Linked DNA regions of Homo sapiens. Each later gene encodes a partner of the first gene's protein in a complex. Each region holds a gene or a part of one and is shown in the gene's direction. Other genes may lie near its edges. The genes, in order: TNKS2 and SH3BP2.

Region 1 (7,862 bases):
CAGCTTCCAGGTGTGCTCTAGGAACCAGCAGGGGGCTGTAGCACCTTTAAACACAGCTAAGAAACAACACTAGTATTGTGAATTTTGTTCCTAGAAATACTCCTAATGAGACTGATATCCACCTTAAAATCTTCTGCGGACAAAAATTTTCTGAATCAGAAGGTCGAGGGAGTAATTGTGTATGTGTTGAGGGGTGGGGGACGCTATTTCAAATATTCTTAATTTAAAACAGATTAATATGGAACTCAGACAAATACATTGGGGAAAAAGGATATTCTTCTCTTTCTAGTACTTTATACAGAAAAAACTCGGCATGTCTGATTTGGAGGTGTTTTTGTAATAGTTTTAAGTTAATGAGAATGGAAGTGTTTTAATAAATTAACAGTATTCCTGACCTTCACATATGGCCTTTTTTTCTTTGAATTTTTTTAATCTCCAAAATGTAGCTATACTTCCAATTTTATGGTTGGGACAAAGTATTTTTAGTTGATTAAAATAACACATTTTATATTTCAGAGTACAGTTTTGCCTACCTTCTAGCTAAATGTATGTCCCATGTTTGGTTTAGATGAAGAAGTCAGTAAGTAATTCCTAAAGATTTGATTTTTCTGGTTTATTTTTTATAGATTCAGAAGGTTTGTAACAAGAAACTATGGGAAAGATACACTCACCGGAGAAAAGAAGTTTCTGAAGAAAACCACAACCATGCCAATGAACGAATGCTATTTCATGGTAAGATTCCTCCCCACCAACTCTACCACTGTCTTCCACATTAGGATAGTTTTTTTGTTCAGATATGAAATAATAATAAGCCTGTATATTCTTTATGTCAGTATTTTAAGATAAACCTACTATTTCTGTAACTTTCACATTTATATTTTCAACTTCTTTTGAATTTGTGTATTTTATAATGGATTGTTTTTAAATAAGATTACCACAATAAAAATAGAAATGAGAGTGTTGACTATCTTTTCCTTTTTTCTTTAAATAGTAAATTTTGCTTATGGTCACTCTAGGAAATTTTGTGTTTTCCATTTAACTAGTTGATTGAATTAAAAATAAGACCTGGGAATCACCTCAGAAGAAGGTGTACATCCTATTCTGATTTTGATTCTAAGTATCAAACCCACACAATTTGAAAAGAGCCATTGTTATTGAACCTGTAGAGGTTTCTGATGACTGTAGAATTGAAACCATAGAATTGAATTGAAAGCACAATTACTTATTCTTCTTGGAATTTTCTACTTTTTTTGTATTATAAGCTGGCAGGTGTTGATTAGTCTTTCAAATTTTAGCAAAGTTAAACATATTAATGTAGTATTTATGAGGGCTTCAAGTACATTACCCATAGTAGTTCCAGTCTGTTTCTTCATTTGTCCTTGATTGCAGAAAAATTTTAGAGACCTGTAAAGTTCTCTAAAACACAGTAAATTTCATAATACCCTGGGAGAATGGCTGTAACAGAATGGATTCATGTGCAGAATCTAAACATGTTGCACTCCTTATTCCAAAACCCTAAATAATTATCATGATAATCTCTTGACACAGAGCATATTTATTTATCTGTTAATTGATGGTTATAATATGGTTTTTCTAATTTGTAATATAAATAATTTTGGTTTTCCCAAGTTAATTCAAAAAATGATTCTATTCATCTGTATTTCTGTAAAGTAGAATTCAGTATATTTTCCTGTCTGTCTGTGGAAAGGGAATGTGATCTTGATAAATGAATTAGCTGTGGTTTTTTGACTTTTTCCATCCCCCACTCTACTCCACTCCCAAGGAAAGAGGAGAGAGAAGTCAATGTGCAGGGGGTGAGGGAAAGCACCACATTTGCAGATAGAATCTTGTATCGTAATTAATGAAAGGCAGAAGTGGAAGGATAGAAGAGAAGAGGTATAAGAAAGAGAATAAGAATGTGAAAGTTGGGCCGGGTGCGGTGGCTCACGCCTGTAATCCCAACACTTTGGGAGGCCAAGGTGAGTGGATCACCTGAGGTCAGGAGTTTGAGACCAGCCTGACCAATATGTTGAAACCCTGTCTCTACTAAAAATACAAAAGTTAGCCAGGCATGGTGGTGTGCACCTATAGTCCCAGCTACTCAGGAGGCTGAGACAGGAGAATTGCTTGAACCCGGGAGGCAGAGGTTGCAGTGAGCCAAGATCATGCCACTGCACTCCAGCCTGGGCCACAGAGCGAGACTACATCTCAAAAAAATTTAAAAAAAAAAAGAATGTGAAAGTCTACTTGGGCCACTTGGTATCTTCAAAAAAGCACACAGGCATAGGCATCATTCTAAGACCTAATTGCATTTAGCTTTGCTATCTAAAGTGAATTATGAGCCTCTTGGTTTTAGATTTTTATGGATTTGCAGTCTGGCATTTGGTAACTCTTACACTGATATTTCAAGTACTCTGTTTTTCTAGTTCAATCTGTGTCCTTATTTTAGCACATAAACCAGCACTCTGTTAGAAACATTAGTTGATGTTAGCAGTTCTTTATTCTAAAATAGCTGGCTGACAGTTAACTTGTTACCCTTTTTCGTTTTGGCTTTATTATGGTTGGGCTATATATTTAAGAATTCAGTTTCTAAGAAACTAGTTTTTTACTTTTTATTCTAAGATAAATTTTAAATTATTGTTACCCATCTATATGTGTTTCAGGGTCTCCTTTTGTGAATGCAATTATCCACAAAGGCTTTGATGAAAGGCATGCGTACATAGGTGGTATGTTTGGAGCTGGCATTTATTTTGCTGAAAACTCTTCCAAAAGCAATCAATATGTATATGGAATTGGAGGAGGTACTGGGTGTCCAGTTCACAAAGACAGATCTTGTTACATTTGCCACAGGTAAGAGATCACTTGTTCTCATTTATTTTGGTGGTAATCAGATAAGAACTAGTTGCATTTTTGAGGGCAAAGCATTATGTTGGACAGTCTTAGGAATGCAAGCTAGGCATGTTTTAGATTGCTTTTGGCCCTCTCACCAATTGTAATAATAGCTAATATTTATTAAATGATCCGTATGGGCCAATTATAATTTAAGCACTTGACCTGTTTGGCTAATTTAATCATTAGAATATCTGGTGCCTTAAAGCATACTGAGTAGAAAGTAACATTAGGCATGAAAGAGGCTTTATTGTAGCCCTTGAGTATTGTAGGACTCTGTGGACTCTAAAAATCTAGTATTCAAATGCTAAAATGGCATTATTTGTCAAATCTAATTATTTGATGGCAGTGCCTGAGCCTCTCTTCCACTGTGATACGATCCTAATCCTCAATTTGCAATATTACTATAAGAACTTGAAATTAAAACATTGATCCTTTTTGAAAGGAAATAATAATCAAATAACTACTTTGCACTTTTTTTTTCCACTTTTAATTACCTGTTCTAACTCACTTGTTAAAAATCATTTAAGTAACTTGTCCCTAACTTATAAAATCCTTATAGGCAAAAAGTAATGCCACTTGAAAAATCCAGTAAGATTAATTCCTGAGATTTATTCGACAGTTAGGGCACTGCTTATTGAATATACAGAGCAGTAGTTTATCAAGCATTAGCATGCATTAGAGTCACCTAGATGGCTTGTTTAAATCACAGATTCTTAGGCTCCACCTTCTCAGTTGCTGATTTAGTAGATCTGGGATGAGACTCTAGAATTTGAGTTTCTACCAAGTTCCCAGATGTGACACTGTATTTCTGACCACTGATCTAGAAAAAAACCCCTAGAGCAGTACTTTGCACTTTGGCAGCACATTGGAATCACCCAGGGAATATTAAAAAACTATTAATGCCTGTGTCCCACCCTCACAGAATCTCTTTTAATTGGTCTGGGGCATGATCTGGATATTAGAATTTTTAAAAGCTTCCCAGTTGATTTCAAAGGGCTTCCGAGCTGAAGAATTGCAGTCATGGAGGGAAACAGGTTCTTTCTTTGTGTTTGTTTTGTTCTTACTGTTACCCCTCTAAATTTAGGCCTGCATAGGTAGTACACAGTAGGCCCTCCTATGTATGACGTCCCACTCACTTCTATTTTAGATCATAAATTGGAGTGGTTAGGAGGCATGTAATTTCCTGTAAATTGAACACTGCTGTTTTTATTTGTCATATATGGTCTGAAGGCTAAATAGTTCTGATTATTAGTAATAAGCAGCATTCTAATACCTCCCTCTTCTTTGGAAGATAGAACCATCAACTGGTCTACAGAAATCTCCTGTTATCTTCTAAAAAGAAACAATGACGTTAATACTAAAAGGTTGTTTGAAACTAAGAAAGGCTAGTCACATGCCTGAGAGGAGTGAGAGGGTAATCTACTGAAACTGGTGGTGAGGGGAGACTACCAGTTTACTTCCTATCTAAGGAAGTAACATTTCAGCTGAAGTCTGAAAATTGAGTGGGTATCAGCCAGTGGAAGAGTGGTAAAATAGATAACATTCCAATGGTGGAGAAAATTCTGTGGATGGGGACCATTAATAAAGCAAGTTTGGCCTTTGTGAAGAAAAGAAAACTAATGTGCATGGGGCATAATGAACATAAAATGAGATTCAAGAAATTGGAGCCATTGTACAGAATTTGGATTTTCTCCCAAGTACAGTGACAGCCTCTAAAAGGTTTTAAGCAGAAAAGTGACTTGATCTAATTTTTGTTTGTTTTAATTAGTTGGATGGGAAAGGTTTGGACAGGAATTACAGAAGAAACAGGAAGACTGGTTTAGAAAGCCATTGTGTGATAGTCCAGGTGAATATTTCAGTGATTTGACTTAATAGTGACAGTAGAATTAAGAAAAGTAAATGGATTTCAAATATATTTTGAAGGTAAAATCAACTGGAGTTAATTAGATATGTGTCCAACTTTGCAAGCCACTTAATGGAAGTCCACTAAACCTTCTCCTTCCCACTTGGCCAGTGACTTTTGTTTTTTGCTGAGATACAAACAAGGTGGTAGAGTCTGTATCTCTATAAGGTTATTACATTTTTCAGATTTTATAGTTAAAATAAGGACTAACTAAATTGACAAATTATTTCATTAATAAGAGTAATAGAAGACATTCTTAAAAAGTTCTTTTAGGGGTGAAATGATAAAAACAATTATAAGTATTTATGTATAAATAATTTTTTAAAACTTATGCCGTGTCCACACATTGTCATATTTATGTATCAAATTTGACTTCAGGGTGATCTTTTCCTTTTCGTTTTATAGGCAGCTGCTCTTTTGCCGGGTAACCTTGGGAAAGTCTTTCCTGCAGTTCAGTGCAATGAAAATGGCACATTCTCCTCCAGGTCATCACTCAGTCACTGGTAGGCCCAGTGTAAATGGCCTAGCATTAGCTGAATATGTTATTTACAGAGGAGAACAGGTAATGTAGTTTTATTTGTTCATCTTCAAAAATGCTAGGGAGGCATACTTTAACTTTTTATTAATCTCTTGAATTGACAAGACATATTGCCTTAACTGGATTTTTTAAAAATTTTATTTGGAGATAATTTCAGATTTGGAAAGTTACAAAAATAGTAAAGAGAATTTTCTTATAACCTTTACCTAGATTTCCTAAATGTTAATATTTTGTTCTCTTTTTTACTCTTACCATTCTCTCCTTCTTTCCTTGTGTGTGTACCTATTTTTTTGTGAACTGTTTGAGAGTAAGTTGCAGGGCATGTCCCTTTACCATTAACTATTTCAATTGTAAATTTCCTAAAAACAAGAAGATTTTATTCAAATTTCGCCAGTCGTTCCGGATTTTTCTTAGCTCTTATAAATAATTGAAATCTTGTATTTAACAGCCTGTCCATAGCAAAGAAGTATATAACTGTGTTTTGCTCTCAGTGAGAGCCAAAAGTAGTTCTAGAGCAGTGTTGTGAACTGGGAGTAGGTATCGGAATCACCGCAGTTACTAAAATCAGACATGATTTTAGTCTTATCTGATACTTATGAACTTAGTATTCATCTTAGACTTGCTGATTGAAAATCTGAAGAACTGTACTCAGGGTAAAGATGTTTTGAGAAAATGTCCCTAGATGATTCTGATCTACAACAGTAATTTAGAACCTCCTCCCTAAGATTAGGAATACTTCCGGAAAGTCTGTTTATCTTTCAAGAAAATTTTTGTACCATTATTTGAATTTATCTTTCTCTTCCAGGCTTATCCTGAGTATTTAATTACTTACCAGATTATGAGGCCTGAAGGTATGGTCGATGGATAAATAGTTATTTTAAGAAACTAATTCCACTGAACCTAAAATCATCAAAGCAGCAGTGGCCTCTACGTTTTACTCCTTTGCTGAAAAAAAATCATCTTGCCCACAGGCCTGTGGCAAAAGGATAAAAATGTGAACGAAGTTTAACATTCTGACTTGATAAAGCTTTAATAATGTACAGTGTTTTCTAAATATTTCCTGTTTTTTCAGCACTTTAACAGATGCCATTCCAGGTTAAACTGGGTTGTCTGTACTAAATTATAAACAGAGTTAACTTGAACCTTTTATATGTTATGCATTGATTCTAACAAACTGTAATGCCCTCAACAGAACTAATTTTACTAATACAATACTGTGTTCTTTAAAACACAGCATTTACACTGAATACAATTTCATTTGTAAAACTGTAAATAAGAGCTTTTGTACTAGCCCAGTATTTATTTACATTGCTTTGTAATATAAATCTGTTTTAGAACTGCAGCGGTTTACAAAATTTTTTCATATGTATTGTTCATCTATACTTCATCTTACATCGTCATGATTGAGTGATCTTTACATTTGATTCCAGAGGCTATGTTCAGTTGTTAGTTGGGAAAGATTGAGTTATCAGATTTAATTTGCCGATGGGAGCCTTTATCTGTCATTAGAAATCTTTCTCATTTAAGAACTTATGAATATGCTGAAGATTTAATTTGTGATACCTTTGTATGTATGAGACACATTCCAAAGAGCTCTAACTATGATAGGTCCTGATTACTAAAGAAGCTTCTTTACTGGCCTCAATTTCTAGCTTTCATGTTGGAAAATTTTCTGCAGTCCTTCTGTGAAAATTAGAGCAAAGTGCTCCTGTTTTTTAGAGAAACTAAATCTTGCTGTTGAACAATTATTGTGTTCTTTTCATGGAACATAAGTAGGATGTTACATTTCCAGGGTGGGAAGGGTAATCCTAAATCATTTCCCAATCTATTCTAATTACCTTAAATCTAAAGGGGAAAAAAAAAATCACAAACAGGACTGGGTAGTTTTTTATCCTAAGTATATTTTTTCCTGTTCTTTTTACTTGGTTTTATTGCTGTATTTATAGCCAATCTATACATCATGGGTAAACTTAACCCAGAACTATAAAATGTAGTTGTCTCAGTCCCCTCCAGGCCTCCTGAATGGGCAAGTGCAGTGAAACAGGTGCTTCTTGCTCCTGGGTTTTCTCTCCATGATGTTATGCCCAATTGGAAATATGCTGTCAGTTTGTGCACCATATGGTGACCACGCCTGTGCTCAGTTTGGCAGCTATAGAAGGAAATGCTGTCCCATAAAATGCCATTCCTATTTTCTAATATAAAACTCTTTTCCAGGAAGCATGCTTAAGCATCTTGTTACAGAGACATACATCCATTATGGCTTGGCAATCTCTTTTATTTGTTGACTCTAGCTCCCTTCAAAGTCGAGGAAAGATCTTTACTCACTTAATGAGGACATTCCCCATCACTGTCTGTACCAGTTCACCTTTATTTTACGTTTTATTCAGTCTGTAAATTAACTGGCCCTTTGCAGTAACTTGTACATAAAGTGCTAGAAAATCATGTTCCTTGTCCTGAGTAAGAGTTAATCAGAGTAAATGCATTTCTGGAGTTGTTTCTGTGATGTAAATTATGATCATTATTTAAGAA
Region 2 (8,327 bases), on another chromosome or scaffold:
GAGGCAGAGGGGAGGCCAGTGTGCAGGGCACTCTGGCGTGGGGTCTGGCTGAGACCTGAGCGGGCCTCCATGCTTCCACCCCTCAACCAGCACACACGTCCTACCATCCCACCCAACCTCCACTGCTCCCCCTCCAGCCCCAGGCTGCTCCTTTCCCCTTCATTCGGTAAAGGAGAAAATATTCCCCATCCCACCCAGGGCAAGGCGTGAGGCAGCCAGGCCTGGCCTGGGATGCAGAGATGGCCCAGAGCCTGGGAGGGGCCACTCCTGTCCAGCCTGCCCTCCCTGCCAGAGTGCCTGCCACCAGCCCAGCCTCCTGGGAGAGATGCCAGCCCCCAGCCCTGTCCTCAGAGCCAGACTGATGCCTGCGTGTGAGGCCCAGCCTGCCTCCTCAAACTCCTCTTCCCATGAGCCACAATCCTCCCCCACACCCCCTCTGCCCCTCCCTCCAGTGCTGGGCTGTGTGGCCAGGGGACTGGACTGTGTGGCAGGATGACTCCACACAGCCTCCCCCAGGGAGTGGGGATTGGGGGAGGTAGGGTGGGAACCTGTCCCCTCCTATCCCCAGGGAAGCAGGTGGGAAGCCTGTGGCCTTGGCCCTACTCAGGAATTGCCTCTCCTAGCGAGGCGGCCTGGTGAGGTGGTACACTGTATCACTGTGGGGCCACTCCTGGGGACAGGGACAGGTGGGAGGGCAGGGTCCATGCTTCCAAGGTCCTCTGGACACGGGACCCAGGTGGCAGCTCCAAAACCTGGCTAGGATGGGCACAGTGGCTCATGCCAGTAATCCCAGCACTTTGGGAGCTGAGGTGGGTGGATCGTTTGAGCCCAGTAGTTCGAGACCAGTCTGGGCAACATGGTGAGACGCTATTTCTACAAAAAAATAAAAAATATAAATAAATAAAAATTAGTTGGGTGTGGTGGCACATGCCTATAGTCCCAGCTGAGGTGGGAGGCTCACCTGAGCCCAGGAGGTTGAGGCTGCAGTGCCACTGCACTCCAGCCTGGGCAACAGAGTGAGACCCTATCTCAAAACAAAAGAACAAAAACAAAACCTACCTAGCCCCTTCCTTGGGGCTGCCCCTTGAGGCCTTTGTCTGTTCATTCACCAATCATGCACTGGGAGTCTATTTTGTAACTCAGGTGCCCTGGAAGCAGAGCCCAGACCAAGGGAAGCGAGGGGTCCAGGCACACCCGCCAAGGGTGATCTAGGGGCAGGAATGGCAAGTGCAAAGGCCCTGAGGTGGGAATGTGTCTGCGGTGCTGGAGGAGACAGGAGGCCAGTGTGGCCAATGCTAAGCGGGGCTATGGAGAGAGAACTCAGGGAGCAGGCAGGTGGCACAGGCTCGGTCTGGGCCCTGCCCATGCAAGGATAGAAGGCATTTGCCTTGGGGGAGGTGGGATCTACAGAAAGTTCTGAGTGAAGAAGTGACATGACCTGACTCACACTGTGACTGCACCCCTCTGGTGTGATGATGGACACTGCCAGGCAAGCGCAGGAGAGGGAGGATGAGGCAGGCAGGGGCTGAGAAAGGCAGGATTCCAGGTGTGCTTTGCCAACAGAACCTTCAGGGCGGACGGGATGTGGGGCGAGCAGAGAGGCATCAGTGCGGACGACTCCAGGGTTGCTGGCCCAGGGAAGGAAAAAGAGACTTGGCAGGCGCATGAAGCCCCCTGCTGGGACGCCTGTGACACGTAGACCAGCGGCAGATCTTGCCCTCGCCATCCTAACCGTCAGCCTCACCCTCAGCAGGTCCTGCCCTACCCCCCAGACAGCAGCTGCCTCTGCCTGTTCTGGGTCCTGCCAAATCAGTGGCATGGCCGATGGCACACGGGGGATGGGTGTGGCGGGGGACCGGCCCCCTTCTCTTTGGCCTTATTCTGTGGGTGTGATTGGGGCATCACCATGGGCTTCTACCCCGGATGTGCCCTGTGGAGGTCTGCTCCCCAGCTCCCTGCCGGCCAGGGGTCCTCGCCTTACCTCTGCTCACCTGCCCTGCATACCCTCCCAGCAGGCGAGGTCATCCTCCTCACCCATCCCTGCTCTGTCAGCCTCAGCGGAACCCCTGGGTGCCCAGAGGCTCTGGCCACAGCCTCCAGCAGCTTCTTGCTCGGAGGGGCTGCTGGGAGCTGCCCTGAGGCCCCAACTAGGAGTTCCTTCCTCCCACGCCCTGGGGTTGGACTGGTAAGGGGGGAGAAGGGGAGGAATATGAGGTGTGGGATTCTCCCCACGGTGGAGGCTGCACCCTGTTCCCCCTGTTTGGCTGAGGTGCCCTGCACAGAGGTGCTTTGCATTTCTGGGTGATCATTCTCTAGGCGCCTGGTCCGTCCACACTGTCTGCAGTGACCCTGCTCCGTCAACTCTGAGCTTGGCATCTGAGGCCAGCCCTGTACACCCTGCCCTGTAGTCAGGCCCTGGCGGGGCCGCACCGACGTTTGGCTTTGCTCCACTCCCCTCCCGGTCTCTGCCCCTTTCCCCAGCTGGTCCCCTGGGAACAGGACACTTGCTGTGACCCAATGGCATCTGCTCATTTGTCCATTTGCTCCTCTCGTGAGCCACAAGGGTAGGGACTTCCTTGTATCATCTTGGGTCCCCGGGGTCTGGTGTGGGGCCAGGCATTTATTTAGCTGAACTGGACATCAGGGACATCAAGATGTACAGCCCCAAGGTCATGAGTGTTTTGTCAGGAGCCTTAGACCAGTCTGGCCCAGCCTGGAGCTCCCTCCGCATGTGGCCTCTTACAGGAGTGACGCAGCCCCATGCGGTGCTAACAGTGGCAGCACTGAACGTCGGATGGGGCTGAGCCCAGCCACTTCCACAATGGCTGTAGTTCCTATCTCTTCCTCCCTGCTAGGAAAATGTGAAATAGCCCAGAGTGGGGGGTGGGCAGAAGAGTTGCAGGCTACCCAATGCTGGGATGAGCAGAGTTGAGACCTGGGGAGCCAGGCCCAGGACACTTACAGGTGGGGATGTGAGCAGGCACCCCAGAGAGTGAGCACCCCAGCCAGCCAGCACCCATCTACTCCCTCACTGGGGTCTAAGTTCAGCCCCGAGAGCTAGGCTGTAGGTGGGTAGAGTCACAGCCCCAGCGCCGGTGTGAGGGGTGGCCCTGGGCCAGGTAGAGTGAGTATCTGCCTGCTGTCATGCCCCATCCACTTCTGCCGCCTCCCCAGTAGAGGACCCCCTCCATTTCACAGATGGGGAAAAGGGGCCCTGTTGTCTGAAGACTCTCCCATATCCTCCCCTGCCTCTGCCATCCCCTGCTTTGTCCCTTCCCTTCCAGAGGCCCTGCCTTGGTCCTGGTCACTTCCTGGTAGGCACTGGCTCTTCCTCTATGCCTGGGCTCAGGGCCTGGCCACCTAGTTTTCTGACTCCTCCCACTTACTCCCCTCCCCAGTTAACCTCTCTGATCCCAAGTGTGTCTCTCCAGCAGGGAGGAGGGCTATTGCAGCCAGGGATCCCCTTTCTGAGGCTTGGGACCCATTATTGGGCAGCTCTGGGACAGGTGGACGGTGACTTGGCCCACACTCGGTCCAGCTGCAACCCTGAGAACCCGCTTGGTTTGGCTGTGTCTCCTGGAGGCCCTCAGGTATTTCAACCTGTAGGACCCAAACCCAGTCCTTCACCTGCTGCAGGGCCAGCCCTGGACACCCCTGCCCCTGCCTGATTTGGAGCAGCCAATTCAGCCCCTGTCATTGGACTCTGGCCTCTTGTGCTCAGTACAGAGGGTCAGACCTTGGCCGCCTGCCTGGACAGGGCCAGGTCACCACCACCCACCCCCAGCTCCCTTGGGTTCCCAGCAAGATCCTGTCCTTCCTCTACTCACAGCTTCCTGGGCTCTGGGACCTGGGGTCCAGTCCCCACTCCTCATGGGGAGGAGTCCCCCCACGCCCCAAGCAGTTGACTCCCGCACTGGTGGGGGGTCCGCTCGCCCTCAAGCTCTGCAGGCCCAGCTTGGTCTCCCCAGCCTCTTCACTTTCTCCACGGCTCCCTCCACCTACCTGGCCCTGAGAGCTCCCCAGGGAAGCCATTTCCTCCCAGGAAGCCCCTCCTCTTCTCGCCCCTGCCCTTACACCAAGGCATCTGGGCCTACTCTTAGGGAGAGGGTGATGGTGGAGGAAAGGGAGCCTCAGAGGAGGCCAAGTGTAAAGCACCCGGTCTCCTGTGCCTCCCAGCCCCAAGACGACCTCTGGGCCACCGGAGTCCAGACCTGGTCCAAGAGGCGAGGTCCCCCTGGGAAGTGCCTGAAAAGTACCCTGGAGGACATTTGGAAACAAAGACAAGGTTTCCTGGTGCCCAGCAAGCCCTCCCCCACCTCCCCTGCTCCTGTCTTGGCCAGGGCCTAAGTCGCACTCACGGGGCAGGGGTGGGGCCGCCCAGGATCAGGACCACGGGGCTGGGGGGGTGGACAGCGCCCTTTCCACCTGGGTCGCTGGGCACTGGGGTGTCACTGGGAGGGACACGCAGGAGGGACAGACACGCTACCTCACTCACGGGCGAGAACTAAGCACCTACTGTGGACCCGGCGTCTAGGCCCGCGACAACGCCAGTCTTCGCCCCCCAGGGGCCTCGTCCCGGGGCCGCGGAGGCCACGTGCAGTTCCCCGCCCACCCTGAGGTACCGGCCCCGCCCCACGCCCAGCTCGGACCTCCAGGATTGCGGGACCCGCCGGGGAGGGGCGGGGCCGGGGCGGGGCCAGGAGGAGGGCGGACTGGGCGGGCGCGGGCGGGACGGAGCTGCGGCGGCGGCGGGTCCCGCGGGCGGGAGCGCCTGGCGGCCGAGTCAAGCCGCCGCCTCGACCCAGGGCCCGCGGGCCAGGAGAGCGCTCGGCGGGTAAGCCTCGGCGGCGGGTCTCGGCGGGTCTCGGGGGTCTCGCGGGGGGGCGGTCTCCGCGTCTGGAAGGGGCTCGGCGGGCCTTGGCGGTCTGGGGGCTCTCGGCGGGTCTCGGGGGTCTCGGGGGAGTCTCGGGGTCCCGACAGGTCTCGGCGGGTCTCGGGGGTCTCGGGGGAGTCTCCGGGGAGTCTCAGGGGTCCCGGCAGGTCTTGGCAGGTCTCGGGGGAGTCTCAGGGTCCCGGCAGGTATGGGCGGGTGTCGGGGGTCTCGGGTGCGCAGCAGCCTCCCCCGGGCCCCGGGGCCTCCGTGTCCTTGCCAAAGGACGCACGGGGCCTGGGCACGGCGGGCAGTGCCCGAGGGAGCGCGGCTTCGGGGCGGGGGCCGGGTGTCCCTTGCCGGGGGCTCAGGGGTGGGAGGCGGTGCGACGCGTCTGTTTCGCACCCCTCGCGCCCCTCTGGCCCCGCGGCGGGGCCCCTTTACGCGACCCTCCCCACAAGACTCAAAGGCTGCGGCGGGCACTCGCTCTCCGCCCTTCCCGGAATCCAAACTTCCCTCTGCAGCGGCCGCGCTTCACGGAGGGCAAGAAAAGCCGCCCACTGGCGCTGATTCACACTGAAGTGTGAGTGACTGATAGCCGGGCGTCTGAGACTCTCATGGGCAACAGGGAATCTCAGGGGTGGCAGAGGGACTGGAGGAGTTAGGGGGCGGGGACAGCCCCTTCCACCTGTACGCTGGCCTCCCTGCAGCCCAGCACTTTCCCGCTGCTCTGGGCCTCGGCTCCCTGGGGGTATTGAGGGCCTGAGCCCTGCTGTGGGGAGCCTTCTGCTGGTGCTCCTTTCCGTGAGCACCTCCTATCCCCTCTCTGTGCCTCAGTTTGCTCATCTGTTGACACTGGGGACAGCTGTGCCTCCTGGTCTAGTGGCCACACTTAAGTCCTTCGAATTGGCTGTGGCCAGGGGCGGGTACTCCGTGTGGGCTGCTGGGGTGGACAGCCTGCCTGGATGACATGTGTGTGGCCTTGCAGGTGACATGGGCCGGTGATGCAATGTGTAGAATTGTTTCCACAACCGCCTGAAGGCAGGGCCCACAGCCTCCTCCTTGCCGAAGCAAGCCTCTGGGTTCAGGTCAGCCCTGCACCAACTCCATGAGCCTGGACAAGCTCCTGCCCTCACTGGCTCAGGCCCTGTGGGACCAGAGGAGGGGCTGGGCTCCACCCCCTCCTGGTTCTTCCCACTCTGTCCACTGTCTCCTCTACGTAGACACCGTCGAAGGGCCCTCTTGGAGCCCAACCTCAGGGCCCCACTCCAGGCACTCCACTCCTGGCAGGACAGGAGGCCTGGGACGAGGGCTGCAAGGGAGTGAGGATTCTGTCTATCCCCTCTCCCTGCCACCCGCCAGGCTCCCTTTGCCTGGCTCTGTGCCCTGCGTTAGGCACACCCTGGAGGGGGCAGGCAGAAGGAAGACAGATAGGCAGCCGTGTCTAGGAACTGCCAGCCAGGGCCATCTGGTGAGAGGGGTGCTGACAGGGGACCTGGCCTTTCAGGGAGTCCCCAGGCCTCCAGGATCATGGGGGAGCCCACCAAGGAGGCTGGCCTGAAGAGGCAGACAGAGGGAGGACAGGCTCTGGGCCTGCCTTGGCCCTTTCTGCCCACATGGACAGAGGAAGCAGGGTGCTGAGTCAGCTGGAGCTCCCCACCCCCCAGGGATGCACGCACACAAGCAGGCCCACAGACGGGAAGTCCAGGGGCCCAGAGAGACGAGATGGCCAGCCTTGGTTCCTGAGGGGCAGGGAGGAAGGGCGCAAACTCAGCCAGGATCTTGGGTGTGAACTCAGATGCCACCAGTTTCCAGCTGTGTGATCATGGCCAGGAGGCTTCCCCCTGCCACCCCTCCGTTTTCTCATCCATGACCTGAGGGCTGTGAAGCACTTTGTACCTGGTGGGTGGCTATGAGTGTCCGTAGGGGGGATGGTGGTGGTGGTGACATGTGCTTGGTATTCAGTGACAGTGGGTCGCTGAGGGTGCTCTCCCTGGTCCTCAGGGCCGCTGTATGTCCTGTTTTGGGTGGGGGCAGGGACTGGCCTGGAGAGGCCTGGGTAAAGGCCAAGGCTCCCAGGTTCCTGCCCACATTGGACTAAGGCCTGAGTCCATCAGGAGTGGCCAGTGTTGGGCAGCCCCTGGGTCTTCCTGCGTTCTGTCCTCAAAAGCTCCCTTGTGGGGACACCCCAGGTCAGTGACTATGTGTGGCAGGCTCTGCCCTCCTCACTCTCTGTCCTCTCTTGACCTCATGATCTGCCCACCTCCCAAAGTGCTGGGATTACAGGCGTGAGCCCCCACGCCTGGCAGAGTATATAGTTCTTTAATAACCGGGTGGCTTGGCCATCACTGTGCAGCCTGGGTGGGTGAGGAGAAGGGCAGGCTGGCGGGGAAAAGACGGGGAATTTGCCACAAGGTGAGAGCTGTCCTACCCCAGACGCAGTGGAGCGGCTCCCACCCCTCGGGCCAATGAATACAGGGTGGGCCGTCAGGAGGAGGGATCTGAGCCGGGCGGGCAGCCATGCAGGTACAGACAGACTAAGCCAAAGGCGGGCGGTAGGGAGGGTGGGAGACCAGTTTGACGGGAGTGGCCTTTGCATGCCAGGTGTGGTGAGGGTATGGAGGGGCCTGGGAGGCAAGGAGAAGGGGCCGTGCAGACCCTGGAATCCTTCCTCCAGGATAGGCGGCTCCTCCCCAGAAGGCCTCTGCATTCTTCTGGTGGCCCTGTCTGGACACCGAGGGGCTGGAGACAGTCCCACGTGTGGGCTGCCTAAGTCCCAGAGGGGGTGGTAGGGAGCATTTCAGGCTCACTGGCTGGCCCCCTTCCCTGGGGCACTGGACCCTCCTCACCACCCCTTGGCCTGTGCACGGGAGGGTAGACAGGATGGTGCCAAGAGCAAGGGACTGGCCCTCAGCCACGGGCCAGGAGACCTGAGCCTTGTAGGCGAATTGCACTTCCTGACCCTCAGTTTCCTGATCTGCAAAACGGGATGACAGAAGTCCCTGGCTCTGGACCACGCTGCTGGATTTGGGTTCCGTGCCGGGCCCCTGACTACACTCATCCTTCAAGGGTGACGCGAGAGAAGCACGTGCCCAGGTTCGGGGCGGGTGGAGACCTGGGTCAGACAGGAGTTCGAGGTGGTGCAGGCTCCCAGGAGGGGAGAAAGGTGCCCTCCCCCAACCTTCTCTCTTCTCCCCAGGCTCTGTAACTTCCAAGGCCATGAGAGTGGTCAGGCCCTGCTTGGTTTCCCGGCCCCCGATCACAGATCGTGCTGGAACTGCTGGCCCCAACGCCCTGAGGTGACTGGCCCTTTCTTCATGGATTCCGGTCACATCTGGTCCATCTTTGTCAGCTGGCCTCTGGGAAGAATGTGGGCTCGGCCACCTGGAGCAGTTGCCTGGGGAGATCAGAGGAGCCCTGAGGGGTTGGCAGAGCGCCCTCGTGGTATCCATACCCC

The links.
Region 2: the proteins of TNKS2 (region 1) and SH3BP2 are in contact, whole or in part, in a crystal structure (PDB 3TWR), measured with the Homo sapiens proteins. Residues at the interface, in NP_079511.1 of Homo sapiens: Arg525, Ser527, His531, Phe532, Gly535, Tyr536, Asn537, Arg538, Leu560, Asn565, Ser568, Tyr569, His571, Asp589, Trp591, Phe593, Glu598, Lys604; in NP_001116153.1 of Homo sapiens: Leu413, Gln414, Arg415, Ser416, Pro417, Pro418, Asp419, Gly420, Gln421, Ser422, Arg424.

The regions. Positions count from the first base shown.
Region 1 is NC_000010.11:91,856,799-91,864,660, forward strand, and holds part of TNKS2 (poly [ADP-ribose] polymerase tankyrase-2), read left to right. Parts: intron 1-626; coding exon 627-732; intron 733-2,663; coding exon 2,664-2,850; intron 2,851-5,200; coding exon 5,201-5,357; intron 5,358-6,138; coding exon 6,139-6,201; 3' UTR 6,202-7,862. UniProt on the Homo sapiens protein: Poly-ADP-ribosyltransferase involved in various processes such as Wnt signaling pathway, telomere length and vesicle trafficking.
Region 2 is NC_000004.12:2,788,305-2,796,631, forward strand, and holds the start of SH3BP2 (SH3 domain-binding protein 2), read left to right. Parts: upstream 1-4,780; 5' UTR 4,781-4,834; intron 4,835-8,327. UniProt on the Homo sapiens protein: Binds differentially to the SH3 domains of certain proteins of signal transduction pathways. Binds to phosphatidylinositols; linking the hemopoietic tyrosine kinase fes to the cytoplasmic membrane in a phosphorylation dependent mechanism.